4 linked regions of the Homo sapiens genome follow. The protein of the gene in region 4 purifies or fractionates together with the protein of the main gene of each other region. This does not show direct contact. Each region holds a gene or a part of one and is shown on either strand. Other genes may lie near its edges. The genes, in order: TF, PBLD, GDA and MATN3.

What was found.
Region 1: the proteins of MATN3 (region 4) and TF purify together in Homo sapiens (affinity purification with mass spectrometry; 3 studies listed by BioGRID and IntAct, with this or other methods). This does not show direct contact.
Region 2: the proteins of MATN3 (region 4) and PBLD purify together in Homo sapiens (affinity purification with mass spectrometry; 3 studies listed by BioGRID and IntAct, with this or other methods). This does not show direct contact.
Region 3: the proteins of MATN3 (region 4) and GDA purify together in Homo sapiens (affinity purification with mass spectrometry; 2 studies listed by BioGRID and IntAct, with this or other methods). This does not show direct contact.

What each region holds. Positions count from the first base shown.
Region 1 is NC_000003.12:133,769,841-133,777,711, forward strand, and holds part of TF (serotransferrin isoform 1 precursor), read left to right. Parts: intron 1-667; coding exon 668-732; intron 733-5,592; coding exon 5,593-5,777; intron 5,778-7,208; coding exon 7,209-7,398; intron 7,399-7,871. UniProt on the Homo sapiens protein: Transferrins are iron binding transport proteins which can bind two Fe(3+) ions in association with the binding of an anion, usually bicarbonate.
Region 2 is NC_000010.11:68,287,929-68,294,928, forward strand, and holds part of PBLD (phenazine biosynthesis-like domain-containing protein), read right to left. Parts: intron 4,311-7,000; coding exon 4,201-4,310; intron 4,112-4,200; coding exon 4,082-4,111; intron 1,150-4,081; coding exon of another isoform or gene 1,092-1,149; coding exon 1,003-1,091; intron 734-1,002; coding exon 555-733; intron 1-554.
Region 3 is NC_000009.12:72,221,956-72,229,826, forward strand, and holds part of GDA (guanine deaminase), read left to right. Parts: intron 1-1,164; coding exon 1,165-1,272; intron 1,273-3,721; coding exon 3,722-3,829; intron 3,830-5,987; coding exon 5,988-6,085; intron 6,086-7,871. UniProt on the Homo sapiens protein: Catalyzes the hydrolytic deamination of guanine, producing xanthine and ammonia.
Region 4 is NC_000002.12:20,002,308-20,010,178, reverse strand, and holds part of MATN3 (matrilin-3 precursor), read left to right. Parts: intron 1-3,868; coding exon 3,869-4,435; intron 4,436-5,372; exon of another isoform or gene 5,373-6,159; intron 6,160-6,892; coding exon 6,893-7,018; intron 7,019-7,871. UniProt on the Homo sapiens protein: Major component of the extracellular matrix of cartilage and may play a role in the formation of extracellular filamentous networks.

The sequences.
Region 1 (7,871 bases), on a different chromosome or scaffold from region 4:
GAACCCTACTAACCAGAGTTTATTTTGTTATTATTTCTTTTCTGAAACTTCTTGGGGACTTGTAGCTCAGAGCTGTGTTACAACCCCCATTACCACACCCAGAGATATGTGGCCTGGGAGTTAGTAGAGTCAGGTGCCTTTATGCCATGTTTTGCCATATTCTCTGCATTTCTCAAAAACAAAAACAAAAAAACCCACAACATAGCAAATGCTCCATAAATGTTAAAATTCTTTTTCAAAGGAATGAAGGACAGCACAAATTGCAATTTGTGATGGAGTTTCAGTCTCTCACAAATGTTGCCTAGACATTCGCCTTGTATGAGAACCTGAAGGAACTGAGTTTTTCATTCATATGCTGGGGGAGGCATCACCTCACTGAAAATCAATTCCCTACTATCCTTGTTGATGTCAGGGAAATTATGTCATCTCTCAGAGAAACAGTACAAAAAATTAAGATTTAGTATGTGGAACTGAGATTGTAAAACTACAATCAATTCAGAGTGTTTTGTTTTTGTTCTCTTTATTCCTTACATTGCTTACTGTTAGAATGGAAGTTACAGTTGCTGTTTTCAGATGGCTGTCCTGAATCTATAAGGTAGCCCCCTGAATGACAGATAAGTCACTCTGACCGCCTTTTTTTTTCTCTCCCACTTCTGGACCTCTGCAGGTGTCTGGTTGAGAAGGGAGATGTGGCCTTTGTGAAACACCAGACTGTCCCACAGAACACTGGGGGTAAGTGCACCTGCTCCTCTGTCCCCCTAGATCACTAGATCCTGGTCACTGGTATTCACTTGTATTCAGGGATGCCTTTGTGGAAGTATTATGTACACTGTCAGACTTCAAAGCTCTGATTCTCAGTCTGTCTGCTCAGTGAAGAGAGACATGTTCACCTGAGTGCGCAGAATGATCAGGATTATGGGGCCCCCAATGGCCCTAAATCCTCCCCAACACACACTCCCACAGCTGCAAGCCTTGTGCTCCTTTCCCCTAAATACTTCAGTGCCTATTTCCTAAGAATAAGACAATCTCTTGCATACCCACAGTATGATTACCAAGATCAGGATCTTTTACATTATGTGGATTTAATACTCGTCACGTCCACAGTCCACATTTAACTGTTGTCAGTTATCCCAGTAATGCCTTTTATAGCTATTTACTGTACTTCTGGGTTGTGTCCATTGAGAAGGCCTAGAGGCAATGGCATACCAGCAGGAGTAAGCACCAAGATATTGGCTTGTAAGTACTCTTCTTTACTAAAAGGAACCAGAACTCCTTGGAAAAATAGCTGACTTCAGGGCTGGGGCAGGAAAAATAGATGCTGAGCCTAGAACAACACACTGAAGTGCTCAAACAGTGATGGGACACTCAAAGCATACAAGAACCAATTTGAAGGATCTCCTGTTGCCAAGTCTGGGAATTTTGAGCATTAAAATAAATAATGATAGCAGTAAGGGATAATAGCCCATTGAAAGAAATAAGAATGCATGAGGCAATACTGATTAAACAAATGAAGAAGGGAAAACTAATCAATGTGGAAGGAATGATAGAGTTAGAAAACTATCACTTGGCAACCAATATATTGATAACTGATTCAAGCAAGAATCAATGGGTGTTAAGCCGGGCGCAGTGGCTCACGCCTGTAATCCCAGAACTTTGGGAGGCCGAGGCGGGTGGATCATGAGGTCAGGAGATCGAGACCATCCTGGCCAACAAGGTGAAACCCCGTCTCTACTAAAAATACAAAAAATTAGCCGGGCGCGGTGGTGGGCGCCTGTAGTCCCAGCTACTCGGGAGGCTGAGGCAGGAGAATGGCGTGAACCTGGGAAGCGGAGCTTGCAGTGAGCCGAGATTGCGCCACTGCAGTCCGCAGTCCGGCCTGGGCGACAGAGCGAGACTCCGTCTCAAAAAAAAAAAAAAAAAAAAAAAGAATCAATGGGTGTTAACTTGTGGGTGAACGTTGGACAGCCATAATATTAATAAAAACAAACAAAACAAAGCAAAACAAACATTGGCCAGACTGAGCACTCCACACCTGACCCCTCAGTATCACTAAGTGCTAGCAGAGCCCACTGGAATTCAAGCTGTGAATACTTCCCTGCCTTCTCTCATGTTCATTCCCCAACTCCTCACTTTTCCTGGGCAACTCATCCAGAATGAACCGGCTCAGCACCAGCCCCTCCAGGAAGCCTTCCCAGATGGCATACCCTGTCCTACAAGAAGACTCCTCTGTTCATATTGCCATTATGATTGAATTCACCACACTCTGTAATACACTTTGGCTACAGAAACTCTTTGAGCTCTTTTTCTTCATCTTATATTCCCAGAACCTAGTGTAGCACATAGTACACAGCAGTTGCTAAGAATTTGTTTGCAGAAATATTGGGTTGACTAATTTTCCTTTCTTCCCTCGTATTATTGCTTTTTCCTTTAAGAGAGTGTTACCCTAAGCTTGGCTCTTTGCCACCCTTGATTTCTTTTGGTACTTTTCTGAGTAGAGCTCCCTTCTTTAAGCTTTGACTCTCTTACTCTTTGCAATGACTCAAAAATTCTTCCCTCCTGCATAGAATTAAGATAGGAGGCCTGACATCCAATCTCAATTCCATTCCAGTCTATTTCCCAAGGTGTCACTTTTATGTAGAGAGTACATTGGCATTGCAATTGTATTTTTTTACGTGTGTATATGGATGTCCTCATATATTGTAGTTGTATATATACAATCCATATACAACTCAACTGTCCTCATCTTTCTGTCAACGTTCCCTCCTCTTCTCCCAGCCTCTATCCTTATAGAGAATCCTGCTATACTCCCTGCCCATCAGGCCTAGATTAAGTCTGTCAGTCAATATCTTATTTCTTCAAAACGTGTCTTTTTTCAAACTAAATTTTGAAATAATTGTGTGTATTTAAGGTAGACAACATGATTTTTAAGAGCCAAAGTAATTTTGATGTATTGTAAGTTTGGGAACTACTGGTCTAATACCCCTGACTTAATATCACATTCCTGATAAATATTACTAAATGTAAGTCACATCATGTCTGATTCATCATACTTATATTTTGCACCTTCTTACCTTCTTCTGTTATTAATTTGTTGCTTTTTCAACTTATATTTTAGATTGAGGGTACATATGCAGGTTTGTTACATGGTATACTGCATGATGCTGAGGTTTGCGGTATGATTGAACCTGTCACCCAGGTAGTGAGCATAGCACACAACAGGTAGCTTTTCAACTCTTGCCCCCCTCTCTCCCTCCTCCAAAATCTGTCTTAAGTGCTATGGTATATACAAGAAGGAAGACACAAAACCACGTGGGCTTTTTTTTTTTCTTTTTTTTCTTTTTGAGATGGAGTCTCACTTTGTTGCTAGGCTGGAGTGCAGTGATGTGATCTCAGCTCACTGCAAACTCCGCCTCCCAGATTTAAGTGATTCTCCTGCCTCAGCCTCCCAAGTAGCTGGGACTACAGGCGTGCACCACCACGACCAGCTAATTTTTGTATTTTTAGTAGAGACGGGGTTTCACCATGTTGGCCAGGATGGTCTCCATCTCTTGGCCTCATGATCCGCCCACCTCGGCCTCTCAAAAGTGCTGGGATTACAGGTGTGACCCACCGCGCTCAGCCCACATGGGCTCTTTTATCACAATTTGTGTGTGTGTGTGTGTGTGTGTGTGTGTGTATGTGCATATTATAGGTGTGTGTAGGAAAAAGAATGTTAGAAATGTACCAATTTTGAAGGCGTAGACTATGAAATTACAAATGCTTCAAAATTTTCTTCCCAATACTTACGTGGCATTTTATAAATTTCCACCAATAAACGTGTATTATTTTTATTGAAAAAGCATATTTTTAACATGCCCTTCTAGATGCCCTCCTAGCCAGACTGAATCACCTCCCATTTGATTTTTCTTAATTTTCTACCTTTAGGTTCTGGCTCATTCATTAACATCAATTTCCATTCATAAGTCCTCACAAACCCACTTTTCCTCTTGCCTGAGTGCCTCACATACCCTACTGCCTGAGATGGTTCCAGAGGCGGTCTCCTCTCTCCCTTAGAAACACCAGGCACACACCTGCCCCCAGTCTCGCCTGCACTCTCCTTTCCTCCCGCAGAGAGGCATTCCTTTCTCCTCCTCTCATCCTACACACACTATAAGAGACAACTGAAATCTTGCCTCCTCCAGCCAGCTTCTTAATTCATTTGTTCTCAAAGCCCTGGTTTGAGCTCACACAGCATCTAGAGTGTTTTACAAAATATAAAATATTATTATCCCTGCCCTGAATTTTTTGTTTTGGTATGTGTGTTATTTTCCCCTCCAATAAGATTGTGCCTTGGAGAGGGCTGAGAACATAGTATCATAGATAAATGAATAAAATAACATAAAATAAAATAAAAATACATATACCCTTTGAACTAACTATTCCACTTCTATGTAAGCACAATTATATGCCAGTAACACTCATTTTAACGCTACTTTAGTGGCAAAAAATTGTAAACACCTCAGATGCCTATTAAAAGAGGAATGGTTTAAAGATACTATTATAGCCACACTATGAAATATAATACAGTAGTTAAGAAGAACGAGCTTGATTTGTATGTACTGACAAGAAGAATCTATAAGGTATGTAAACAGTTGAAAAAAAAGCTACAGAGTTTTACATTTGTCAAGATCTAACACTAAACAAAATTAGAAACATGTGAAATCCATATACACACGTAGAAAAATACATATAATGAGCCGTGGATGGAAACTCGCAAATGTGATATTAAAGACTAGCACTATAAGACTGAGTGAGATTTGGAGAGTATAGGAAAGGAGGCTTTTAGTTAATATAGAGAGATATTCAAAAATTTATGAGTGTGATCTCATGTATTAGTTATTCGGTTAAAGAAACAAAATTAAATGAAAAATACATTTTTAAAAAGGTTGCAATTCTGAATTATGGGAGAGAAATAAAAATTAGCAAAACATATTTGCAAAGTGGCTCAGGAGGAAGGAGCTGAAACCCTAAGAATGGGTGAGTTTTTTTTTTTTTTCAGAGACAATACAGAAAAGAAGAGGCAAAGGGGCCGAGATGGGATACAGACCTGTATCACACAGGTGTGTGCACATTCTCATTTAGAACTGGAACAAGGGAGTCAGATTTAAAATTCTGGTGCAGATTCCAAAGGTGTTCTCTGAGGAAAAGTTCTTTTGTTTGGAGATGCCATGTGTTACAGCACAGAAATTGATCAACCTGGCTTAGAGCGTCACATTCTTCCTCTGTTGGAGCAAGAGGTACAGAAGGAATTGGAATTTAGTGGAATTGAAGATCTTTTTGAACAGCATCTGCAGAATGTAGTTCATTCTCACCTGGCTGGGTAGGGAAGGTTGGAAGGGGATGGTCAATAATCATTCCTGGTCACTGTGAGTCTGGCATCACCTTGTAGACCACATGGGTGTCTCTTCCTGTCCACATCACTGTAACCCCAGTGTGGGCACTTCTGCTGGCGAGAAGGCCCAGGTTCTCTACACACCACTGAGTCAGTTCCATCTCCCCAGCGGGGCACCTTGACCAAAGCCATCAGCTGAACCACCTTCTTCCTGTCCCTAGGAAAAAACCCTGATCCATGGGCTAAGAATCTGAATGAAAAAGACTATGAGTTGCTGTGCCTTGATGGTACCAGGAAACCTGTGGAGGAGTATGCGAACTGCCACCTGGCCAGAGCCCCGAATCACGCTGTGGTCACACGGAAAGATAAGGAAGCTTGCGTCCACAAGATATTACGTCAACAGCAGGTATGGACCAGCCAGGTCCTCCCACCTTTTCTTCCTAGATGGCCATAGGCTATTCGGGGGGAGTTTACAACAAAGTGCAGCCATGACTCCAGCACTTTCTTTTTGAAAACTAGAATTCCATGCATTGTGCATTTCATGCCATGCATTGTGGACTAGAGTATCAGGGTTCAAATCACAGCTCCACAGCTTCCTAGTTGTGCCATCTTGGGTATGTTACATAACCTCTCTATGCCTCAGCTTCCTCATATATAAAATTGTAATAATAATATTTTTACCTACTTCTCAGTTAACATGAGTATTAAGTGAAGACATGCACCCAAACGGCATAGGAAAATTCCATTTCCTATAGGACGTGCTCAAAATATGTTAGCTGTGTAATTATGGAACTAGACCTCTCAGGCCCAGCTCTGCTTCTAGCTCCTGGTCACTGGTGATTAGATCTGATCCATGTACTCTTGGGACTAGGAATCTGCCTTTCTGCTCCCCCTAACCTTGTTCAGGGGTACCCTCATTTCCCCTACTCCTGTCCTTCCCGAAAATGAAGAAGACAGCTCCTGTTTCCCAGCGCTTGTTGATACGAGTCATGAAGAGTGGATTTCTGTTCCTCTTGCCTAGGCAGACTGAGCACTGTTCTCAACAGTCTGAAAAACACAGGACCCTTGCCCTCGGAGAGCCTGCCCTCTGGGGGAACAACCACTCAGGGCCAGCCTTGTTGAAGACAGGGGCTGCCTGAGTATTCTAATCCTAAAGGCCCCTCCACACACACACATCACCTTCCTTTTGGGCATAGCTGCCTGCTGTTGATTCACCATTACCTTTTTTTAAAAAAAATAAGAGTATATTTGAAGTCCTTTTAAGGTACATGACAATAATAAGCATTTAACATACATTTCCTAGCTGCTATATGGAAAGTTCAACATTTTGCAGTCATCATTTCACTTACAACCTTTGGAGATCTGGAGAAGCTGAGTGGCTTGCCCAAGAAAGGATTCAAAATGCAGTCAAACATGAACTTTTAAGAACTACCTCTGCCACTCCTCTGGGAGGGTTCACATTTAACATCTTCTTTGACAATAACATCTGAAGGGACATGTTATTGTCCTCTCATTTCCTATAAGCAGCCCCCAGTGAAGGGCAATGAAGTGGGGAAGAGAGGTCAGAGTAGGCAGGCATGGGTGTGGGTGGGAGGGACTTATCAGAGGAAGGTGGGACCAGGGACCCTATAGATGATTTTGGGGGCATCATGAAAGCATGCAGCTGGGGCCCTAAGTGGATAAATGGCAGATAAAGGAGGTGGAAAATTCCCAAGACATACTCCGTAGCTTCCCTTTTTCCCCAGGGCTGGTTCAGAGCTTTCAGACTCTTCTCATCCATGTGTTCCCAGCTGCTAAAGACCACAAGGTCCTCACGGACTTTCTGTTCACTTGACAGCACCTATTTGGAAGCAACGTAACTGACTGCTCGGGCAACTTTTGTTTGTTCCGGTCGGAAACCAAGGACCTTCTGTTCAGAGATGACACAGTATGTTTGGCCAAACTTCATGACAGAAACACATATGAAAAATACTTAGGAGAAGAATATGTCAAGGCTGTTGGTAACCTGAGAAAATGCTCCACCTCATGTGAGTAGGAGGAACAGCATGGGGAAGTGGCAACCAAACATGGTGGTGAGTGCTGGGATGGTGGGTGGGTACAGGAGGGGTAGGCTGTGGCCCTTGGGATAGGACAACATGGACAAAATGAAATGGTGAGTGAACAATCTAAGCCCGGCATGTATGACAGGCTAGACTGTAGGGGCAGATAGTAAGGGGATACAGGCTCAGAGCACTAAGGTAGTGAACTTATTGGGTATAGAGAATTCCATCTTATTTCTAAGAAAAGGACTGGGTTTATGTGTACATGCCATTGCTCTGCAGTAAACTTTTGATTAGAGTTGCCTTGTCCAATATGGTAGCCACCAGCAAGATGTGACTATTTAAATTTAAGTTAATTAAAATTAAACTAAATAAAAGATGTATTTCTTCAATCCCACCTAGCTGCATTTCAAGTGCTCAACAGCCACATGTGGCTCCATATTGGTCAGCAAAGAGAATGT
Region 2 (7,000 bases), on a different chromosome or scaffold from region 4:
CGCCTGTAGTTCCAGCTACTGGGGAGGCCAAGGCAGGAGAATCACTTGAACCTGGGAGGCTGAGGTTGCAGTGAGCCGGGATCATGCCACTCCGTTCTAGCCTGGGTGATGAAGTGAGACTATGTCTCAAAAAGATATAATAATACAATATAATAGCTAGTAGTTATTGGGCACTTACTAGGTGCCAGGCACTGTATTAAGCCCTTAACATGCATTGTGCTTTTATAGCCCTATGAGGTATTATATACAATTTATAGAGGAGGGAACTGAGACTTTTAAAAGTCAAGTCACTTGCCCAAGGTCAAAAGCTAGGAAGCTAGGAATGTAAACCCAGGCTGTCTGACACTCAGGTTTAACCCTGTTATCCACCTGCTCTATTTTATGTTTTTCATGGAAGACTTCAGTGAAGGGATGGCAGGGATGGGGAAAGATAGAGGAACAAGGCAGCTCAAAACTCAAGCCACCTGAAAGGTCACAGGAAGTGCACTTAAATAACTATTTGTGATCCTCCTCTTCCATTGTTTAACCCTCCCCTGGGCTCAAGTAAAAAGTACCTGTCACTGGGTCTTCAGCCACACCAACCCACGGTGCAAAATATCTTGAGTAAAAGTCAAATGCTTGGGTCTGCCCACCAGGCTCTCCTTTAAGGGTAAGAATAAGCCCTTTCACCTTCCCTGTGTTTTCAACTTGCAGCAGATTCTCCGTGTTCACTTTCAGGTTCTCCAGAAACGACCTTGTTCATAAACAAGATGGATTAGGACAAACCCATTTCACAGCCCACTCACCACACAGACTCTGTGAAGCAGGCCAGGGTGCAGCTTGCTCAAAGAGCTTAACAGGAGGGGAAGGAAGAACAAGTGGGAATGTCTTCCTATCAGGGAAAGAAACACTCTGGCTGCGTAAATCATGGTTTGACTGGACACAGCACAGCCAGACTAAGGAAGAGCTATAAATCTGGGTACTCAGCCCTCCCCAAAGTGCTGATGCAGCCAAAAATCTTACCTGTTGTAAACGTCACTGAGGCGGACGAGGAGCTTTTGGGTATCTGGAGAATAACAGATGTCCTGGACCAGTGTGTTGCCTATGGCAGTCTGTGGAGACAGACCAAAAACTCCTCAGGGACATGCCCTGGGCCAAGTCCTTGATCCCCTGAAATGGGAAATGACCTCTCATTGAGCATCCACTGTGAGCCAAGCATGCCCATCGTCTCCAGTCCCCAAGAGTGTTAGTGCAGTTTCAGAGCTTAAGGTGTTGCCCAAGGATGGTCAGTCTCCTGGCTACCAAAGAGGCCTCTGTGAGCCTCAAAACAGGCATTGTGGCCAGGTGCAGTGGCTCACACCTGTAATCCCAGCACTTTGGGAGGCTGAGGTAGGTGGATCACCTGAGGTCAGGAGCTCGAGACCAGGCTGGCCAGCATGGCAAAACCCCATCTCTACTAAAATACAAAAATTAGTCGGGCATGGTGGTGCACTCCTGTAATCTCAGCTACTCGGGAGGCTGAGGCAAGAGAATCACTTGAACCTGGTGAACCAAGAATCACTTGTGAGCCAAGAATCACTTGGCCGAGATCGCACCACTGCACTCCAGCCTGAGAGACAGAATGAGACTCTGTCTCAAAAAAGAAAAAAAACATAGGCATTCTCACAAGTGCCTACTATGTGCCTCAATGCACAACTCCTTCAAGTAGGTATTCTCCCCACAGAGAAGGAGAAAGAGACTTAGAAAGGCCAAAGATCACACACACACACACACACACACACACACATATCTTGACCCAGGTCTGAGAAGGTCAGAGAAAAAGCTCTAAATCCCTACTGTCCATCATCTTTAGAGATGGAGGGGCCTCATGTCCACCTCTTAGAGCTGTGAGGATTAAATAAAATCGTATATGTGGAGTATCTGCAGCAGCAATTAGAACGTTCCACACGGCAAGCACTCAGGGCTAGCAGCTTGATTGGAAGGAGGGACTAGAGGGCTCGTCCTGTGCTGCTCTGCTTGGCAAGCACACCACTTTCACTCAGATTGTATGTGACAGATCAATAACATAACATGTTCTCAAGATACCCTGGTTCACTCTACCTGACTGCACATAATCTTGCTGAAATCCAGGAACATCATTTGTTTGTATGTTTGTTTGAGGGTGGCTTGGGGCAGAGGGGGATTATGAGGAGACAACCCCTTCCCACACCACCAAGTCATCCTTTGGCACCAGCCCCAGCTGCCAGGCCCAGCAGATGGTAATTACATGGTAATTGTATGGCAGTCACTAGGTGGCTTCAGGTTCTCTAATCCTTGTTAGAGGCCAAGATACTCCAGTTCCCACATCCAGAATTCCTTCTGCCTTGGGTGGTACTTGGGCTTTCTGCCTCTGTGACTATGGGCTGACCAATGTAACTTCCTCAAGAAATGGGAACTCCTACAGCCGGATCCCATCTGTTCTCCAGAGCCTTAGTCTCTCGAACCCAGCCCTTATCTGCATGAGTTTGTACATTGATTTAAAAGTTCAGGGGTGGGCGCGGTGGCTCACACCTGTAATCCCAGCTCTTTGGGAGGCCGAGGCAGGCGGATCACCTGAGCTCAGGAGTTCGAGACCAGCCTGACCAACATGGAGACACCCCGTCTCCACTAAAAATACAAAATTAGCCAGGCATGGTGGCGCATGCCTGTAATCTCAGCTACTTGCGAGGCTGAGGCAGGAGAATTGCTAGAACCCAGGAGGTGAAGGTTGTGGTGAGCCAAGATCACACCATTGCACTCCAACCTGGGCAACAAGAGCAAACTCCGTCTCAAATAAAAAAAAAGGTTTAATTCTTGGCTGGGAATCTTACTGCCAGTTTCTAGGGAAGAACACAAAATGGCAATACTTACAACCCTTTGTTATCCCATTTAATAAATGCTGACCCTGAGACTAAGTTGAGTTCTTTCTACCATGAACAAGGTCTACCATTATAAGTTTTTTCCACTTTCTTACCAGTATGTTTAAAGCAGTTTGTTTTTAAATTTGGCTTGTCTCCAAAACCCAAGCCATGGATGGGGTTGAGTATAAAATCAGAATCCATCATGCTTATTTGTTTATATTCTTTGAAAACACAGATAAAGCCAAATACTAGAGACTACAAATGCTGTAGTTAAAAATTCACTGAGAAATACCCAAGTAGTACTCACAATAGACTAAGCTACAGAATCATTTTTCTCATGACAGCCCTTGCCCTGGTCCTGACCTGGGCCCTCTCTTCTCTACACACCAAGCCCCTGGTCATCCAGGGCTGCTCTGGCCCTGCAGAACCTTCATGGGACAACTGCAGTGCCTACCTTACTGAGAAACATTGAGAATTAAATGGACAATGCAAGTGAAATGCTCAGCATGTGGCACTGCACACAGAGAGACTCTCAAAATGTTTCATCATCATTAATATTATTAAGCCCCATGCCCACACAGACCCCATGAGGAGCCCATGTTCTGTATCTTGTCTTATCTGCAAGGTACTCATGCTTTCTTGGTTTCCTCTATCAAAGCACAGCCCTCCCCCACCTCAGTCCCATCCTTTACTACAGAAACTGGGGACACTGACAGCTGCCAGGAAGGTTCCATTTTTTCCCTCCATCTTGTGTGTATGGATTTTATGGAATGACCTCTTTCTGCCAGAAATTCCCAACTTTCACACCTGAACTTGCACAGCCATGCTCGGGGCCCATTCCTCTCCTTCTAGCTAGAGAAGCACAGAAATTCAACATCCCTTAATTTCCCTAAAGGCTGGTCTCCTCCCAGAAACTTACATTTCCTTAAGACATCCTATTCTCCCTCTTCTTTACCACCTCCATTGGTTCTTTTGTGCCTTTCAGCCTGTCATATAACAGTGTCTCTTCCCTCCATCCTACCATGGGGGCCAGCAGTGACAATCAGGAGCCAAGGAAAACTGGTCAACCTTCTCACCAAATAGACTGAATATTAAAATTCAAACCTGAAACACTGTAACATTTATATTGGTAAAATGCCTATCTTTGTGGATCAAATGATACCAAATCTTTGTGTGCAAACAATAACAAATAACTAGGCTCAGGTTTGATTCTTTTTACCAACCTTTATCAAGTCCTCTACTTCATGGAAGTCCTAGATGGGGGGAAAAAAAACAAAATTATTATAAAACAGGAGAGCTGTCGGTTGTAGATGGCTTAGGGCAATAATTACAAAGAGCTGACCTGGGGGTGGGCTGGATAAAGAGGCAAGTCCAGGACGATGCCATCCTCTGCTCGTCTGGCCCTTAGTTCTCCACTCAGAGTGACAAACGTGAGCGTGCTATTCATGTTTTCTGGCCAAAATAGGAATCAAGAAATAGGAAATAAACTTTGTCATATATGCGCATGTCCATTTCAAACACCTTTGCATTGTCTTAGATTTTCTGGCACTGTCATCCTTTTCTATGATGGAGCGAGGTTTGGGTTGCTGAGGTCTAGAATGGAGAAAACTCTCACTAGATTCTAACTTGAGAACCAAGAACATAACTGATCAGATGTGGCGTCATACTTCAAGGCTTCAGATCCCAGCTCTTTACTGCTTACTGTGCCCTTACTAACTTAGCCTCCTTTTTTTTTTTTCTTGAGACATGGTCTCACTGTGTTGCCCAGGCTGGAGTGCAGTGGCACGATCTCAGCTCACTGTACCCTCTGCCTCCCACATTCAAGTGATTCTCCCACCTCAGCCTCCCAAGAAGCTGGAATTACAGGTGTGCACCATCACATCCAGCTAATTTTTGTATTTTTAGTAGAGACGAGGTTTTATCATGTTGGTCAGGCTGGTCTCAAACTCCTGACCTCAAGTGATACACCCACCTCGGCCTCCCAAAATGCTGGGATTACAGGCGTGAGCCACCACACCTGGCCAGCCTCCTTAAATCTCAGTTTCCTCATCTATAAAATGAGGTTAATACATTAAACCTACCATTTATAATGTTTTCTCTTTCTTTGAGGAACTGTCTCACTCTGTTGACCAGGCTGGGGACTGGCTCACTGCAGCCTTGACCTCCTGAGCTCAAGCAATCCTCCCACCTCAGCCTCCCCAGTAGCTGGGACTACAGGCATGAGCCATAATGCCTGGATAATTTTTAAATATTTTGTAAAGACAGGGTCTCACTATGTTGCTCAGGCTGGTCTCTAAGTTCTAGACTGAAGCAATCCTCCCGCCTTGGCTCCCAAAGTGTTGGGATTACAGGCATGAACCACTGCACCCAGCCTGTAATGTTTCTAATACAGATTTTAAAATATCCAGCAGCAACAACCATAGAGTCATAACCTCTTCTAGTCTAAGATACGCCAAGGGAATAACAAAACATTTAAGTTGTAAATATCAGTGTTATATGAAATAAATTTGGTTTATCCTAAATGAACCAAACTTTTTACATAACAATGTAATTTAAAGAATGCACCACAAATGTTGGCATCCCATGTTACTGATACAACTTGGGCTACTTATCAGTGTGTATAACATTTTTAGTGAAAACAAAGAATGCTGACCCAATTCTTTTCTCTCCCTTAATATTTCTGTAAAACTTAAACCACATGTCAAAGGTGAAGAACTTTGGCTTGTTAACTTTTATTGAGCATAAAATTGACATTCAGAAACACAAAGCTTAATTTTTCTCATTACGATTTGCATAAGACATTATTTACAAAGCATTTTTTCATACCTTATCTTATCTAACCTGAAGACTGCCCTATGGGGGTTTCCAGGATGTTATTATTCCAAACCTCAGCATCAAACCAACCCACGTGGAGTCCAGTTTTCAAAAGACACTCAATCTTGCTTTGGGAGGCCGAGGCGGGTGGTTCACCCGAAGTCAGGAGTTTGAGACCAGCTTGGCCAACATGGTAAAACCCCATCTCTACTAAAAATACAAAAATTAGCCAGGCGTGGTGGCAGGCACCTGTAATCCCAGCTACTTGGGAGGCTGAGGCAGGAAAATCACTTAAACACAGGAGGCAGAGGTTGCAGTGAGCCAAGATCTTGCCATTGCACTCCAGCCTGGGTGACAAGAGCAAAACTCCATCTCAAAAAAACAAAAACAAAAAAACAAAAGACACTCAATTTAATTTCAGTAAACCCTATTTTTCAAGACTCAATTCCTAAACATTTCGGAATGTTTGCTTGCCTTTTGCACATGTCCCCTATCCACAGATACCAAAATCATCTTTTTAAAATGTATATTGAATTACATTATATGGCTTCTCAACTTTATCTCCTGCCAATCATATAGACAGGCCCCAGGGACTTTGCACTTGTTAGCCTCTGCCTGGGATGCTCCTCCTCTCGCTCTAGCTCATCCCACAGATGCTTCATCTTATCCTTTCGCCCAAAGTTCCCCTTCTCTGGTGGGTGCTGATCCATATTCTATGTCTGACCCATGGCCTCAGGACTGGGACTCCATGAGGCAAGGAAGTACCATAGGGTACAAAATGTAAGGAGACACCTGCTCTCAGCTGCAACCTGGGGCCTTGCTGGCTCTGCCTACACCTGGCCCTGACCCTGCTTGCCCAGAGTGCTAGTGGCCAACAGCTCTCAACTGAGTCACTCTCTTGGAGTTACCTTTGGCTGAGTAGAGCTACCTTGCCCAAAGTCATACATCTTTTCCAGGCTTTGGGAACTGGTCCATGGAGGGTAAAAAGGCCTGAATCTTTGCCTCTACTTGGAACTATACTACTTGAAAAAATGTCCAGCTTTAGAGCTCCCCACGGATTTGGCCTAGGCCTTTCCTTGTTGCTACTACTCTGCAGTTCAATTTCTCCCTCTATTCAATCCTACTTTCTTTTTCTTCTTTTCCTCGAGGTGGAGTCTCGCTCTGTCGCCCAGGCTGGAGTGCAATGGCACAATCTCGGCTCACTGCAACCACGGCCTCCCAGGTTCAAGCGATTCTCCTGCCTTAGCCTCCTGAGTAGCTGGGACTACCGGCGCCCGCCACCATGCTCAGCTAATTTTTGTATTTTTAGTAGAGACGGGGTTTTGCCC
Region 3 (7,871 bases), on a different chromosome or scaffold from region 4:
ATCATTGATGGGCATTTAGGTTGATTCCATGCCTTTGCTATTGTGAATAGTGCTACAGTGAGTGTATGTGTGCATGTGTCTTTATAACAGAATGATTTATTTCCTTTTGGTATATACCCTGTAATGGGATTGTTGAGTCAAATGGTATTTCTGTCTCTAGGTATTTGCAGAATCACCACATTGTCTTTCACAATGGTTGAAGTAATTTACACTCTTACCAACAGTCTATAAGCATTTCTTTTTCTCCACAACCTCACCAGTATCTGCTATTTTTCTGACTTTTTAATAATATCCATTCTGACTGGTATGAGATGGTATCTTATTACAGTTTTGATTTGTATTTCTCTAATGATCAGTGATGTTGAGCTTTTTTTTCATGTGATTGTTGGCTGCATCAATCATATGTAAAACAGTGAAAAGTGTCTGTTCATGTGCTTTGCCCACTTTTTAATTGGGTTGTTTTTTTCTTATAAATTTGTCTAAGTTCCTTATAGATGCTGGATATTAGACTTTTGTCAGATGCATAGTTTGCAGAAACTTTCTCCCATTCTGTTGGTTGTCTGTTTACTCTGTTGGTGGTTTCACTTGCTGTGCAGAAGCTCTTTAGTTTAATTACATCCCATTTATCAATTTTTACTTTTGTTGCAATTGCTTCTGGTGTCTTTGTCATGAAATCTTTTCCCATGCCTATGTCCTGAATGGTATTGCCTAGGTTGTCTTCCAAGGTTGTTTTTTTGTTGTTGTTTGGTTGGTTTTTTGTTTTTTTTTGAGACTGAGTTTCTCTTTTGTTGTCTAGACTGGAGTGCAATGGTGAGATCTCGGCTCACCACAACCTCCGCCTCCTAGGTTCAAGCAGTTCCCTTGCCTCAGCCTCCCGAGTAGCTGGGATTACAGGCATGCGCCACCACGCCCAGCTAATTTTGTATTTTTTAGCAGAGACAGGGTTTCTCCATGTTGGTCAGGCTGGTCTCGAACTCCCGGCCCTCAGGTGATCCACCTGCCTTGGCCTCTCAAAGTGCTGGGATTACAGGTGTGAGCCACCACACCTGGCCCTTCCAGGGTTTTTATAGTTTTCGGTTTTACATTTATGTCTTTAATCCATCTTGAGTTAATTTTTGTATATGATGTAAGGAAGAGGTATCAATTGTTTTTAATTATCTCCAGTATTCTAGAGTGAAGCCCATAGTGACACCACGTTTTTCCCTCTCCTGCTCTGAGACTTTGATGGGTGAACTGGGCAACATTGCTAAAACCCGTGATTTGCACATTCAGGTGGGTATTCTTCTTCTCTTTATGCCTCTATGCAGACCTGCAAGATTTCTCAGCACCCTTAAATCATCATTTCCAATAATCTGTAGTTGTTTTACTGAGTAATCTGTTTCTTCAACTGAGATATCCTAGAGTCACAGCATAACAGGAGAGAAAGGACCCCTGTAGATATCACCTAATCCAATTCTTTCATTTTGCAGATAAGAAACCTGAAGTTCCTTATACCCTCAATGTTTTCTGATCAGTCTTCTAAAGACAAGAAAATCGTTTTAAGTAGTGGCAAGATCAATAACAGACTGTGATCTGTTCTCTGTAGGATACATTTAATGCATTTATTTCCTACTTCTCTTTCACTTGATACTTTCTCAGTGTGTTCTGTACCTTCATTCTTAGAGAAACCAGCTATTATTTGAAAAGCAAAAAGAGCCTAATTTCCACCTTACAAAATAGCATTTAAAATCCCTTTTGTTCTGAGTTTCTTAATTTAAAATCAGAACAAAAAAGTATACCTTGCTTTGTCATTAAATTGTTGCAATTTAGGAATAAAACACTTTTTTAAAGCTTATATCTGGGTTAAAATTGAGAGTTCCCCTTCTCCCATCCAAGCTTAATTACATACTGTACTAAAATTTCTCCTCTTAGGAGTTGACGGTCTTATAAGAAAGGTCAGATCAGGGCAGAGACAACACATTGATTCTTTACCATTTGTAAATCAGTGTTTTTTTGGTTTTTGTTTCCCAAATCTATTTTCTTAGGAACCATTAACCGCTCTCACCTTCCCTATTATTGTTATTATTATTTGCAGCCTATAATTTTTGAATTTTTAATTCAGTCCCACACATTTCTCTGCTGGAGATAAAATTCAAAACTTACCTGATGTTTCTGCTTTGCAAACAAAATGCTTCTGTCGCCGACAAAATAAAATACACATGAACATTTAAAAATACATGAAAAATAAGATGAGAAGAACACACAACAAAATCAAGTTTATCCTTGCTAGAGAGATGCATGTGGATGTATGCACATTTACTCACATTTATCCAAATGACTCGAATCATCAGATTGTCCTTTCTTCTGTTGCTGTCCATGCATTTCATCGGTGGTCTGGGACTTCCTCAAGGCCAGGGATGGAGTTCATTGTCTGAGTAAAACACGTGTTTTCAGAACATTGCTATTTTTTTCTTTTAAAAATTTAGCTACGCATATTCTAAATGGCATTGCCATTCTTGGAAGTATTAATTATGCCCTCTTAGATTTTGTGGTGCCCTAGAGAAAGGTCTTAGGGGCCTTTTTCAGTGTGGGGGCATAGGACTTATTGTTTTGCTTGCATGTGGATTCTTATGGGCTGTTTCTTGATGACCGTGGAATTTTCTAGCTCAGCTATTTTCAAACTCTTTTTTGGAGAACTCATTCTGGAAACTAACAAAGGGCACAGAATGGAGACAGGGTCCCAGAGTCTCAATCCTGCTGCATCCGGAGGGGCAGTGCTTTTATGCCTTCTATATATTGGGTTTCTGTGAATTTTTATATGAATAATATATTCAGTGCCGAGAGAATTTGGAAAATCACTCATCTAGCCCAACCCTTTTTTTTTTTTTTTTTTGAAAGATGGGAAAATTGCTGTCCAAAGAAAAGAATGACTTTCTCTAGGACACATAGCTGTCAGAACTTGGGCCAAACCCAGCTCTCTTTACTCAAATTCCAGTGTTCATATAAGTGAACCCCACTGTCTGCTTTTTTATGAACACTGAGCTCTTTTCTTAAACGGCCAGTATGGCCAGTCACGGTGGCTCACGCCTGTAATCCCAGCACTTTGAGAGGCTGAGCCCGGCAGATTACTTGAGGTCAGGAGTTTGAGACCAGCCTGGCCAACATGGTGAAACCCCATCTCTACTAAATATACAAAATTAGCCAGGCATGGTGACACATGCCTGTAATCCCAGCTACTCAGGAGGCTAAGACAGGAGACTCACTTGAACCTGGGAGGCAGAGGTTGCAGTGAGTGGAGATTGTGCCACTACACTCCAGCCTGGGCGACAGAGCCAGACCCTATCTCAAAACAAAAGAAAGGCCAGCACCAGAAGAGGCAGGTTGCTAGGGTCCTGACTATCTTCAAGGAGGACTTCATATTTGTTCCAGCTGGAGGTCAGAATTTGAAAAGACTTTGTTGGAAAAATTTGTCTTGATATTATACATACACATACACACCCACACCCACATCCACACACACACACTACATGTTCATAATATTCAGTTTCTTTGTCATATACATTATATTATCTATGATGAATATAATTGTTTCTAACAAAATGCATGTGTAATCTTCATTGCCTTTCTATGTGGTCCCTTAAATAGGCAAGTAGAAAACCATTCACACCATTTTGAGGTAGGAAGTGTAATTTCTAATGGTATTTTACAGAAGAAAAATGAAAATATTATTTTTTTCTTGTAGAGCCATATAAGTGAAAATCGTGATGAAGTTGAAGCTGTGAAAAACTTATACCCCAGTTATAAAAACTACACATCTGTGTATGATAAAAACAATCTTTTGACAAATAAGGTAAGTTTTATATCATGACATAATCTGTTTAAAGGAGGGCATATTTATCTCAATTTTAAAATCTCAATAGTAATCTTCAGATTTCTGATATGAATACATTTCTTTAAAAATTTTTTTTAAAGTTTTAATTTTTGTGGGTACACAGAAAGTTTATATATCTATGGGGTACATGTGTATACATTTCTTAAATTAGAGTAAAGCCTAGTGTGTGTGTGTGTGTGTGTGTGTGTGCGTGTGTGTGTGTGTGTGTAGTTAAAAATGGACCCGAAGTTTCATCTTAGTGAATTAAATGTAAAGGCTTCATTGAAGATGGGAATGTCATTTGGTCCAAGGACATTTTAACAGTATCTATTAGAATGTAAACCTACATTTCTTTGAGTCAGCAGATGCATTTCTAAGAATTCACTCTAAGTAATATGAATAGGGATGCTAATTTTATATTAAAGTTTAAAAATTGTTATCGGTGAGGGATTAAATTACAGAGCATACATAGGATTTTATCCAGCATTCACAAAGAAAGAGGTATGCAGGCTTACAAGGAAGAATGTTTGTGTAATATTATTTGATGTGTATGTACATATGTATAGATGCATGCTTACTTAGAAAAAAACTGTCTGAAAGACACAACTTGAGTATTAAAAATGACTCTTCCTGAGGGACAAACCAGAAGGACTTTCTGCTTTTTATTTTTAAATACTCTGAGAGTGCTTTTAAAAAATGAGTATGCATTACTCCTATAATTAAAATTAATATGTGTGAAGAGACCTCATTACAATAATGTACTACTTGGCCTTGGCCTTCAATGAAATGTACAAACCGCATGGAGAGTTTACCATAGCAAATAATTTCTTAGTGACTGTGTGAATGGAGATATGAATATAACTGATTTAAAAGGTTAATACTTTGCATAAATCATGTAAAAGCTACACCATAGTTTTCATTCTTTATATATTTTCCATATGATTAATAAATTAACCTTCCATTTGCATGTTAATTTTATTTGAACAGAGATTGGGAAAGTTATATTTTAATAATAATTCTGTAGTCACTGGGCCGGGCCTGGTGGCTCATGTCTGTAATCCCAGCACTTTGGGAGGCAGAGGCAGGCAGATCACGAGGTCAGGAGATCGAGACCATCCTGGCTAACACGGTGAAACCCCGTCTCTACTAAAAATACAAAAAAATTAGCCAGGCGTGGTGGCAGGCGCCTGTAGTCCCAGCTACTCGGGAAGCTGAGATAGGAGAATGGCGTGAACCCAGGAGGCGGAGCTTGCAGAGAGTCGAGATTGCGCCACTGCACTCCAGCCTGGGCGACAGAGTGAGACTCTGTCTCAGAAAAATAATAATTCTGTAGTCACTGAACCGTGCCTCTCAAAGGGGAAAGCAAGTTGGGTACAGGTTTTGTACTGAGAGAAAAATAATTTTGAAAGAGTAAAGTCTTATTTAAGAAAATCTACAAATAAATACTACCAACATTAAAAATTTAGAGAGGTCTCATGTGTGTGCAGTGCCTGCTTTCTTGGATCAATTTTACTTTCTGAATTAATGATTATAAGATGTTAAATTTCCTAGTTTTTATGAAAATATAAACGTAGGTGAGTTAAAAGTTTATTTAGTTGAAAATATCAAGGCCATTGGCACTTACATTGAAGCTAGGAGCAGAAATAAAGAACAGCGCTTTGCAGGATTACTCTCACAGCTTTCACATACTGAGAAGGGACTTTTAGTTCTAGAAAGTTTTTTTAGAATTGGAGCAAGCACAACACTACCAGTTGCTTCCCATATAAACTTAGAAAAGAAAGTAACTTGACAGTCTTCTAAAGTAGAGATGAGAAAATCATGTTATCTTCCATCTGGATGGATATTCTGTGCTGTAGATCACCTGGACCAAACCCTCATTACTTTATAGATCAACAAAAAGAATCTAAGTAAACTCCACAAATTTCCTGAGACTTTCGTAAGACAATGTGTTTACAGGCCTTTTCTAAGGTATAACTTGTACCTAGCAACTTTGTACATATAGATCATCATAAATGTTCTTGTGAAGATGCTAACAGCCAAGCTACAGCTTCGGTCTCTCTCTAAAATACCTTGTGAGTGAGTACCCACTTAATCATTTGTGAGCGGTAAACTCCACGTAGGGCACTCTTCTCTCCAGACAGTGATGGCACACGGCTGCTACCTCTCTGCAGAAGAACTGAACGTATTCCATGAACGAGGAGCATCCATCGCACACTGTCCCAATTCTAATTTATCGTAAGTAGACAATGATTGTTTGGTAGATTACGAATGATTGGGTTGCAGATTAGCAGCCAAATGCCTTTGTTTCCTCTGTCATTCCTCCAGGATCTCCCCTCTATTCTGTGTTTGGCAGGACCCAGATAGATAGACATTTACTCGTGCTGTTGAGGAGTAAAAGAGAACACGTAAGAGGACATTTATCTCAGAGGACACGTGAAGAGCACAGCATCTTCTGAAATCTCTGAGTTTGTACAAAAAAAGGACAATAGGGAATACAACATAAAAAATTTACAGTGAAAGTACTGAAAGAACCCATATGTCAGCCAGGAAATCCAGAAGAGGGTAGTCACTCCCATTACTGTTTGTGCTGTAGTGTGAGAAGGAAACACAGCAATACCAAAGCAAATGCACTATGATGTATGTTACCCTGTTGGACCTGACGGAATGCCAGCCCACACAGGCAAGCCCAGGAGGACCTTGTCCTATTATAATTCCCCAGAATACAGAGGTGTTATTTATTAACTGGTTCTTAACCTTTTGAAAGGTGATGGATCCGTAAATGAATAAAATGAAAGTTATTGCCTGGGCGCAGTGGCTCACATCTGTAATCCTAGCACTTTGGGAAGCAGAGGCAGGCAGATCACTTGAGGTCAGGAGTTCAAGACCACCCTGACCAACATGGTGAAACCCCATCAGTATTAAACATATAAAAATTAGCTGGGCATGGTGGCAGGCACCTGTAATCCCAACCACTCAGGAGGCTGAGGCAAGAGAATCGTTTGAACCCGGGAGGCGGAGGTTGCAGTGAGCCAAGATTGCACCACTGCACTCCAGCCTGGGTGACAGAGTGAGACTCTGTCTCAGAAAAATAAATAAGTTATAGCCTGTAATTTCAGGGGAAAAAAGCCCATGGATATTACAAGTGTTGCATCTAATTTCAGGGAATTCATAGATCTCATGATGCCAGTCCATGGATGCTAGGTTAAAAACCCATGCTTGTGGCTGTAATCTCAGAAAACAACTTCAGGGGTCGGGCGTGGTGGCTCACACCTCTAATCCCAGCACTTTGGGAGGCCAAGGTGGGCGGATCACGAGGTCAGGAGATCGAGACCATCCCGGCTAACACGGTGAAACCCAGTCTCTACTAAAAAAAAAAAAAAAAAAAAAAAAAAAATATTAGCCGGGCATGGTGGCGGGCGCCTGTAGTCCCAGCTACTCGTGAGGCTGAGGCAGGAGAATGGCATGAACCCGAGAGGCGGAGCTTGCAGTGAGCCGAGATCGCGCCACTGCACTCCAACCTGGGCGACAGAGCAAGACTCCATCTCAAAAACAAAACAAAACAAACAAACAAACAAACAAAACCTTCAGGGAAGTAAAACAGGGAAGGGAAAGAAGTCAGTGAAGATCGTATCATCACGGAAGTTACCACTGTGGGCTCCCGGAGTTTAATCCTTCTATTTAATAGAAAACTCAGGTAACCAGTGTCCAAAACAGAACTCAAAGTTATCCTGCCCAAGAAGTGAGGGAGCTGGCTGTGACAGTAATACCCAAATGCTTATGGGTTGTTGTTGAGGGCTCCTGGGCAGAGTGGAGAAGAGTATTAATTCCCTGGAACTTCTGGCCGTCCCCAAACAAGGGCAGAGCAGGCTCTAGCACAGGAGAGAGCTGAGAAAGCTCCTAGGCAAAGAGCTGGAGGCATTCACAGTTGGAAATCTAGGGACTTTGCAAATTACAAAGATATATGTCAGTGTCATTATGGGAAGGGTGCTGAGAGCCACAGTGACATATTTCTGGAGTGCTT
Region 4 (7,871 bases):
CCCATCTCCAGGAAAGATTTTCAACATAATTCTTCTTCCTAGCTCTAGATCTATGGGACTTTCCAGGAATGAAGTAAAATTCTGGAGGTTTTTTTTTTTTTTTTTTTTTTTAGTATTTGAAGAGATTTATTCTGAGACAAACATGAGTGACCATGGTCTGTGACACAGCCCTCAAGAGGTCCTGAGTACATGTGCTCAAGATGGTCAGGGTGCAGCTTGTTTTTATACAATTTAAGGAGGTATGAGACATCAATCAAATACATTTAAGAAATACATTGGTTTGGTCCTAAAAGGTGGGACAACTCAAAGCCGGTGGTGGTGAGGGGCTTCCAGGCTATAGGTAAGTTTAAATATTTTCTGGTTGATAATTGGTTGCATTTGCCTAAAGACCTGGGATCCATAGAAAGGAAATGTTCAGGTTAAGATAAAAGACTGTAAAGACCAATGTTCTTTTGAAGTCTTATAGTGGCTACCCTTAGAGACAATAGATGACAAATGTTTCCTATTCAGATCTTTTTAAAAAATTATTATTATTTTACTTTAAGTTCTGGGATACATGTGCAGAATGTGCAGGTTTGTTACATAGGGATACATGTGCGCTGGTGGTTTGCTGCACCCATCAACCCATCATCTAGGTTTTAAGCCCCACATAGATTAGGTATTTGTCCTAATGCTCTCCCTCCTCTTGCCCCCCACCCCCTGACAGGCGCTGGTGTGTGATGTTCCCCTCCCTATGTCCATGAGTTCTCATTGTTCAACTCCCACTTATGAGTGAGAACATGTGGTGTCTGGTTTTCTGTTCCTGTGTCAGTTTGCTGAGAATGACGGCTTCCAGCTTCATCCATGTCCCTGCAAAGGACATGGACTCATTCTTTTTTATGGCTGCTGGAGTTGTTTTTTTTTTTTTTAAAGAAAGAAAGAATTTTGATTCCTTTTTTTTTTTTTTGGCTTTTAGAGACTGGGTCTCATTCTATCATCCAGGCTGGAGTGCAGTGGTGTGATTGTGGCTCACTGCAGCCTTGACTCTCTAGCTTTAAGCGATCCTCCTGCCTCAGCCCCCTAAGCAGCTGGGACTACAGGTGCCTGCCACCATGCCTGGCTAATTTTTAAACTTTTTATAGAGATGAGGTCTCCCTATGTTGCCCAGGCTGGTCTAGAACTCCGGAGCTCAAGTGATCCTTCTCCCTCAGCCTCTCGAAGTGTTGGGATTACAGGCGTGAGCCACTGCGCCTGGGTTTAATTCCTTTTGACTTAACTAAATGCATGACATACAGCATATTTCAGGGCGGTGACTTAAAGTCAACAAGCAGGATGTTTACTGAATACATGAGAGAATGTTGATTTTTGTGGAGGAAAATGTTGCCTCAGAGAGAGGTAACTGGGATTCAGTAGCAAGCTCCCAGGGACTGGGAGTCAGGAAACCTGGAGTCCAATCCATGCTCTACCACTTTCTAGTTCTCACACCTCCTTGAACCTCAGGTTTCTCACCTGTAAAATGAATATAAAAACCACCTCTGCACCTCCAGCCTCACAGGTTGATGTGTTGGTACCTTGCGATTCCTAAAGTGTTACTGAAAGGAAGATTTTCTTTTTGTTAATTAAATACCTCCAAGCAGCAGGCTAAAAACAAGAAGATAATTTTCTGCTTTTAAAAGAAAACTAGACAGAGACATAAGGTAGGCTGTTCCAGGTAAGGCTTTAATTTTTTTCTATAAACTGCTTAGTCTAGGCATTAATTTTGAATCACCTTTTTTTCCTACTAAGTATTACCTTCCTAGAGTAGCATCAACTTCTGCCTCCTTATTAGGAAAGGAAAGAGCCTTGAGTGACACTTCATGCCCCAGGACCTCATTTCCATTTAGGGCTGCATGCGTGTGTTGGGTGAGAAGGGGGAATGACTTGAAAAAGAAGTTTAGGGCTGGGCACAGTGGCTCACACCTATAATCCCAGCACTCTGGGAGGCCAAGGTGGGAGGATCACCTGAGGTTGGGAGTTTGAGCCCAGCCTGGCCAACATAGTGAAACCCCGTCTCTATGAAAAATACAAAAATTAGCTGGGTGTGGTGGCGCACACCTGTAGTCCCAGCTACTCAGGAGGCTGAGGCAGGAGAACTGCTTGAACCCAGGAGGTGGTGGTTGCAGTGAGCCAAGATTGCACCACCGCACTCCAGCCTGGGTGACAGAATGAGACTCCGTCTCAAAAAAAAGAAAAAGAAGTTTAATAATTGGCTTTTTTTCTTGTCTCATCCTGACTTGTGGATTTGATTTTTGTATCGAGGAGAGAGGGTGTGCAAACAGGGGTTGGGGGAAACAGGAAAGAACAGGAAAGAATAGATGAACACTAAAATGTACTGTGATACTAAACTGTTAGGTACTTTTGTGTAGAAAAGAGATAAATTCTTTGAAGGTGGGAAATCTGGCTATCTGGTTTATATGCTTTTGTAGCTCCAGGGCTTCATACATGTAGGCCCTCAAAAAATGTTTTTGGTGAATGAATAAGTCAAAAGAGAGATGACCAAGAGAGTTAGTTGGGGCAGTAGGGTAGATACCAGATCACAATCCCTGCTTCTTACGAGACATGCTCATGAAGCTGGAAGCTCACTAAACAGATACAAGATTAAGTTGGCATCCCTCATTCTACTTTTTTTTTGAGATGATGTCTTGCTCTTATTGCCCAGGCTGGAGTGCAATGGCAGGATCTCAGCTCACTGCAACCTCCACCTCCCGGGTTTAAGCGATTCTCCTGCCTCAGCCTCCCGAGTAGCTGGGATTACAGGCACATGCCACTACGACCCGCTAATTTTTGTATTTTTAGTAGAGACAGGGTTTCACCAAGTTGGCCAGGCTGGTCTCAAACTCCTGACCTCAGGTGATCCTCCCGCCTCGGCCTCCCACAGTGTTGGGATTACCAGGCGTGAGCCACCGCGCCCGGGCCCCTCTTTCTACTTACTTTTTTTTTTGTTTTGTTTTTTGAGACGGAGTCTCGCTCTGTTGCCCAGGCTGGAGTGCAGTGGCGTAATCTCAGCTCACTGCAAGCTCTGTCTCCCAGGTTCACGCCATTCTCCTGCCTCAGTCTCCCGAGTAGCTGGGAATACAGGCACCCACTACCACGCCCGGCTAATTTTTTGTATTTTTAGTAGAGACGGGGTTTCACCGTGATGGTCTTGATCTCCTGACCTCTTGATTTGCCCGCCTTGGCCTCCCAAAGTGCTGGGATTACAGGCATGAGCCACCACGCCTGGCTCTACTTTAAATTAGTTCAGGGCTCCAGTGAGCCCCCAAATTCACTAAACAGGAAAGATGGCCAGATGGAGGGAGAATTCAGGGATACTCTGGAGCAGTTTTCAGCCCCTTGGAAGTGGAGTAAAAGAGGGGGGCCACCAGAAGAGCCCCTGAGTGCCTTGCCTCAGACTACCATTGCCTGAGGCTTGGGCACAGTGGTTGGCAGTGAGGCTGTCCCTGAGGGCCCAAGGCCTTTTACATGGTTCAGGGACACATTGTCCAATTGCTCCAGATAGCCAAGGTACTTAAGAAATGTGTAGAATCTATTAATTCCCAGGAATCATGAGGGCCCTTGGGAGCAAAAGCTTAAGCAGAGGGATGAGGTTCTAAGTGAAATTTCAGGATTCAGCCAGCCTGCAGGTGAGGTATTTGGGGAAACTTCACACCTCCAGGTGAATTCTCACTAGGGAATTCTGAAGTCCTTGGTGCTTTCAACACCCCGATGGTCTTGGGGAAGGTCGCAGGCAGTGGTGATGTTGGGGTCAGGAGATGCTGCCTTGCCTGGCCTCCTGGAATCCCAGAGTTCTCTGGAAGTGAGGATTACTGCATTTCTAATTGTGGTCTGATCATTGCTTGGTCTTTTGCAGGTGTTTGCAAGAGCAGACCCTTGGACCTGGTGTTTATCATTGATAGTTCTCGTAGCGTACGGCCCCTGGAATTCACCAAAGTGAAAACTTTTGTCTCCCGGATAATCGACACTCTGGACATTGGGCCAGCCGACACGCGGGTGGCAGTGGTGAACTATGCTAGCACTGTGAAGATCGAGTTCCAACTCCAGGCCTACACAGATAAGCAGTCCCTGAAGCAGGCCGTGGGTCGAATCACACCCTTGTCAACAGGCACCATGTCAGGCCTAGCCATCCAGACAGCAATGGACGAAGCCTTCACAGTGGAGGCAGGGGCTCGAGAGCCCTCTTCTAACATCCCTAAGGTGGCCATCATTGTTACAGATGGGAGGCCCCAGGACCAGGTGAATGAGGTGGCGGCTCGGGCCCAAGCATCTGGTATTGAGCTCTATGCTGTGGGCGTGGACCGGGCAGACATGGCGTCCCTCAAGATGATGGCCAGTGAGCCCCTAGAGGAGCATGTTTTCTACGTGGAGACCTATGGGGTCATTGAGAAACTTTCCTCTAGATTCCAGGAAACCTTCTGTGGTAAGTTGGTCAGTCTTTGCTTCCAACTAGAAAGGATGTTATATTCAGACATTGTGTACCCAGAGAAAAGAGTATTATTCTTTTTTGGTGGAAATTTAATGAAAAACTTAAATATATCCAATGCGTGTGTGTGTGTGCACGTGTGCATGCGCGCGTGTGTGCGACCAACCTAAACACACTCTATTGGTTTAGGAATATAGAGCTGCATTATATGGAACTTGGTTTGCTCATAAAATCTTCATGTTTGCGTTAGAACTGTGAAGGTCTGCAAATATCCAGGATAAATGACCCTGCTGTTCCCTGTCAGGGTCAGGAAAAACAAAACTCAAGATGCCTCTCCTGTCCCCTCTGCCCCACCACTACATTTTTTTCCCCTGATACATATTTTTTTAGTTTTACCATCTCTAGATCTAACAGAACTCTGTTTGTTCTCCTGCAGAAGACAGGGAGAAGCGTCTGTCCTTGGGAGAGTCAGCAGGCCTCTATTCCAATGTCACCGTCAGCCCGAGTGTGCATTTAGTGAATGCTCTGGTTTTCAGACTGGGCTGTTTATCTGATTACTCTTTGTTGAAGAACAGGATTCAGGGACCAGGCAGATTAGGGTTTCAGCTCACTTGAAAGAAAGCAAGATGATCTTAAGAAATCATTCTGTTAACTCTGCTACTCCTTCCATCCTTTAGGATGGAATTTGAATAAGGACATGCTAATTTTATTGGAATTTTTAGCATGAATTGACCAAATCTAGGACTACAGATCCATTCAATGCTGGAGTTTAATTTTAGTCACTGATCAGAATTATGATCTGTGGGACTCATGCTTTATTTTTTTATCATCTGGAGATAATCTTTTGTTCCCTCTATGTGAATATCCAAGCAGTTGTGGACAAATTTCTAGTTCAGGTGAATTTTTAAACATAGATATCTTTTTGCAATATAATTTATTTCACACTTATTTATTCAGCATGCATTTATTGATCTCTGATGATACAAAGATAAAGGTAATCCCTCCATACCATTAAGTAACATTCTGGGGGTGGGGGTGAGACAAACAAATGAACCAATAATTAATTACAATTATACATTTCAAGGAGACTTTTAATCTAGGTTAATGTGAAACGCAGCCATCAATGGTTTGTCAGGAAAAGGGAGATGAAGTCTTGCTCTGGGGCAACGTTTGGCCTCATTGCAGTCAGACTTGGCTGGGATCCCCTTGTCTTTCCTGTCCCAGGACACTGGGCTTTCACAAGCCATCACTGGCTTTGGTGGCATCTACTTGGCATTCGTTGGCTTCCAAAAAGAAAGTGGCTTTCTTTCTCCCAGGAAATCACCCTCCCACTCCATGCTTGTGGGTGAGAGCCTCTCCATCAACATGCTGGTCTGTGGCAAAGTTGGGTTTCAAAGCTAGCACCTGGGGTTGGGCTTCGAAGGCTATAAAGTAACAAGTGGTGAGTGGCAATCTTTTCCTTCTGGTACAAAAGACCTGCTTGTTCTGGGGGAAAAACGTCCTCTCTATGGAAAAAAGACTGAGCGGCAGCTTGTTGTAGTCAACGGGTTGGAAAGATCATTCCATGAAAAGGCCCTTCTTGGGAAAATATTAGCCTTGTCCTGTTGCCAAGGGCAGTGGAGGTTGGGTTACCTGCCACAGGAGGGCCAGCCTCCTTCAACAGGCCTCCTTGGTTTCTCAGAAATGACTTAATTCATTGATTCATCTTTCAAAAGAGGTCACTAGGAAAAAAATATCCAATGAGATATAAATGGCTCCAGGAGCAATAAGATGGAGATGTAGTTTAGCTAATGTAATCTCATTTATTTTGTTCTTTTCTTTTTACCTGTTTGTATTAGCATATGAGTTCACTATGGATTTAGCGTATGGATGACTTCACCCACCTTACATATTCAGAAGACAGTTACCCGAACTGTCCTCTACCATTTGCATGTTCAAATATGTACCACTGCCCACCTGTGAGTTCGTTCTAGGCTTAGACCCAGACTTGTGTGAGAATTCTGTTTAGACATAGGCTATAGAACCTTGGAAATCAGATTCTGGCTACAATGGGACAACTAGCTCACGTCACTTCAGGCTGTGCATTTATTGTTCTCCCATTTCTTGTGGTGGGGAAGCACAAATCTTTTTTTCATGGGGAGGCGGATAAGCCAAATAAAACATCCAATTGCCTGGCCTATGTAAGTGTTTGGCTTCAGCTCCAAACTCCAAATTCCCTTTCTCCCTTGAGAAAGTCTATATAGCAAGATGTGTACTTTTAAATTAGCAACAATTTCTAGTTTAAGAGTAGCATTGCTAATAAGCCAGAGGCAGAAAACAAATAACCATTTTTTTATAGTGAAGTAAAGATGGACTCGGAAAGGAGCCCAGAGAGCAATGTCTATTGACATGGGAGACGGTATCTGAGATGTTTCCTAAGTGTCAGTGCTGACTGTTGTAAACTTCCTCTCACAGCGCTGGACCCCTGTGTGCTTGGAACACACCAGTGCCAGCACGTCTGCATCAGTGATGGGGAAGGCAAGCACCACTGTGAGTGTAGCCAAGGATACACCTTGAATGCCGACAAGAAAACGTGTTCAGGTGAGGCCTGTGTAGGGGGCCGTGACTGAATCAAATACTTGGGAACCTATGCTCCAGGTTTTGGACTGGCCTTGTGCTTTGACTCTCTGACCCCTTTTTACCTAACTGCCTTTTGGCTGGTTTACTGGTGTTCATCAGCAGTTTTCCCTGAAAAGGAGCTTAGGGAGAAAAGTGAAATGATAGATAAATCAGCTTATTTCCATACTTTGTAAGTTTTAAATAAAATCGTAGGAGAAAAGGCTACTAAGAAAGAGGTCCAGGCTGAGTGCAGTAGCTCATGCCTATAATTCCCACATTTTGGGAGGCTGAGATGGTAGGATAGTTTGAGGCTAATTCGAGATTAGCCTCGAGAACATGGTGAGACCCCATCTCTACAAAAAATAATTTAAAAAAAAAAGCCAGGTGTGGTGGTGCATGCCTGTAGTCCCAGTTACTTGGGAGGCCGAGATGGGAGGATTGTTTGAGACCAGGAGGTCGAGGCTGCAGTGAGCTATGATAATGCCTCTGCTGCACTGCCACAGAGGGAGACCTTCTTTCAGAAAACAGAACCCACACACACAAAAAGGAAAAGAAACGGGTCCAAGATTCTTAGCCCTTTTGAGGATTTGAAAATTTTCCTGGATTTTATTTCATTACATGCAAGCTACCCTCTTCCTCTCTAGTCATAGATGCTCATGGAATCTAGAAGTAGCAAAGAAGTTAGAGGGGTACTCACTGGTCTGGTACATAGATACATACATGGAGTCAATGAGGAATGGGAATTATATATTTTTTTGTTTTGTTTTTAATCCTAGAAAAAAGTTTTTGGGAGGAAGAAAGCTTAGAGATAACTTAATTTTATAGATAATGAAAT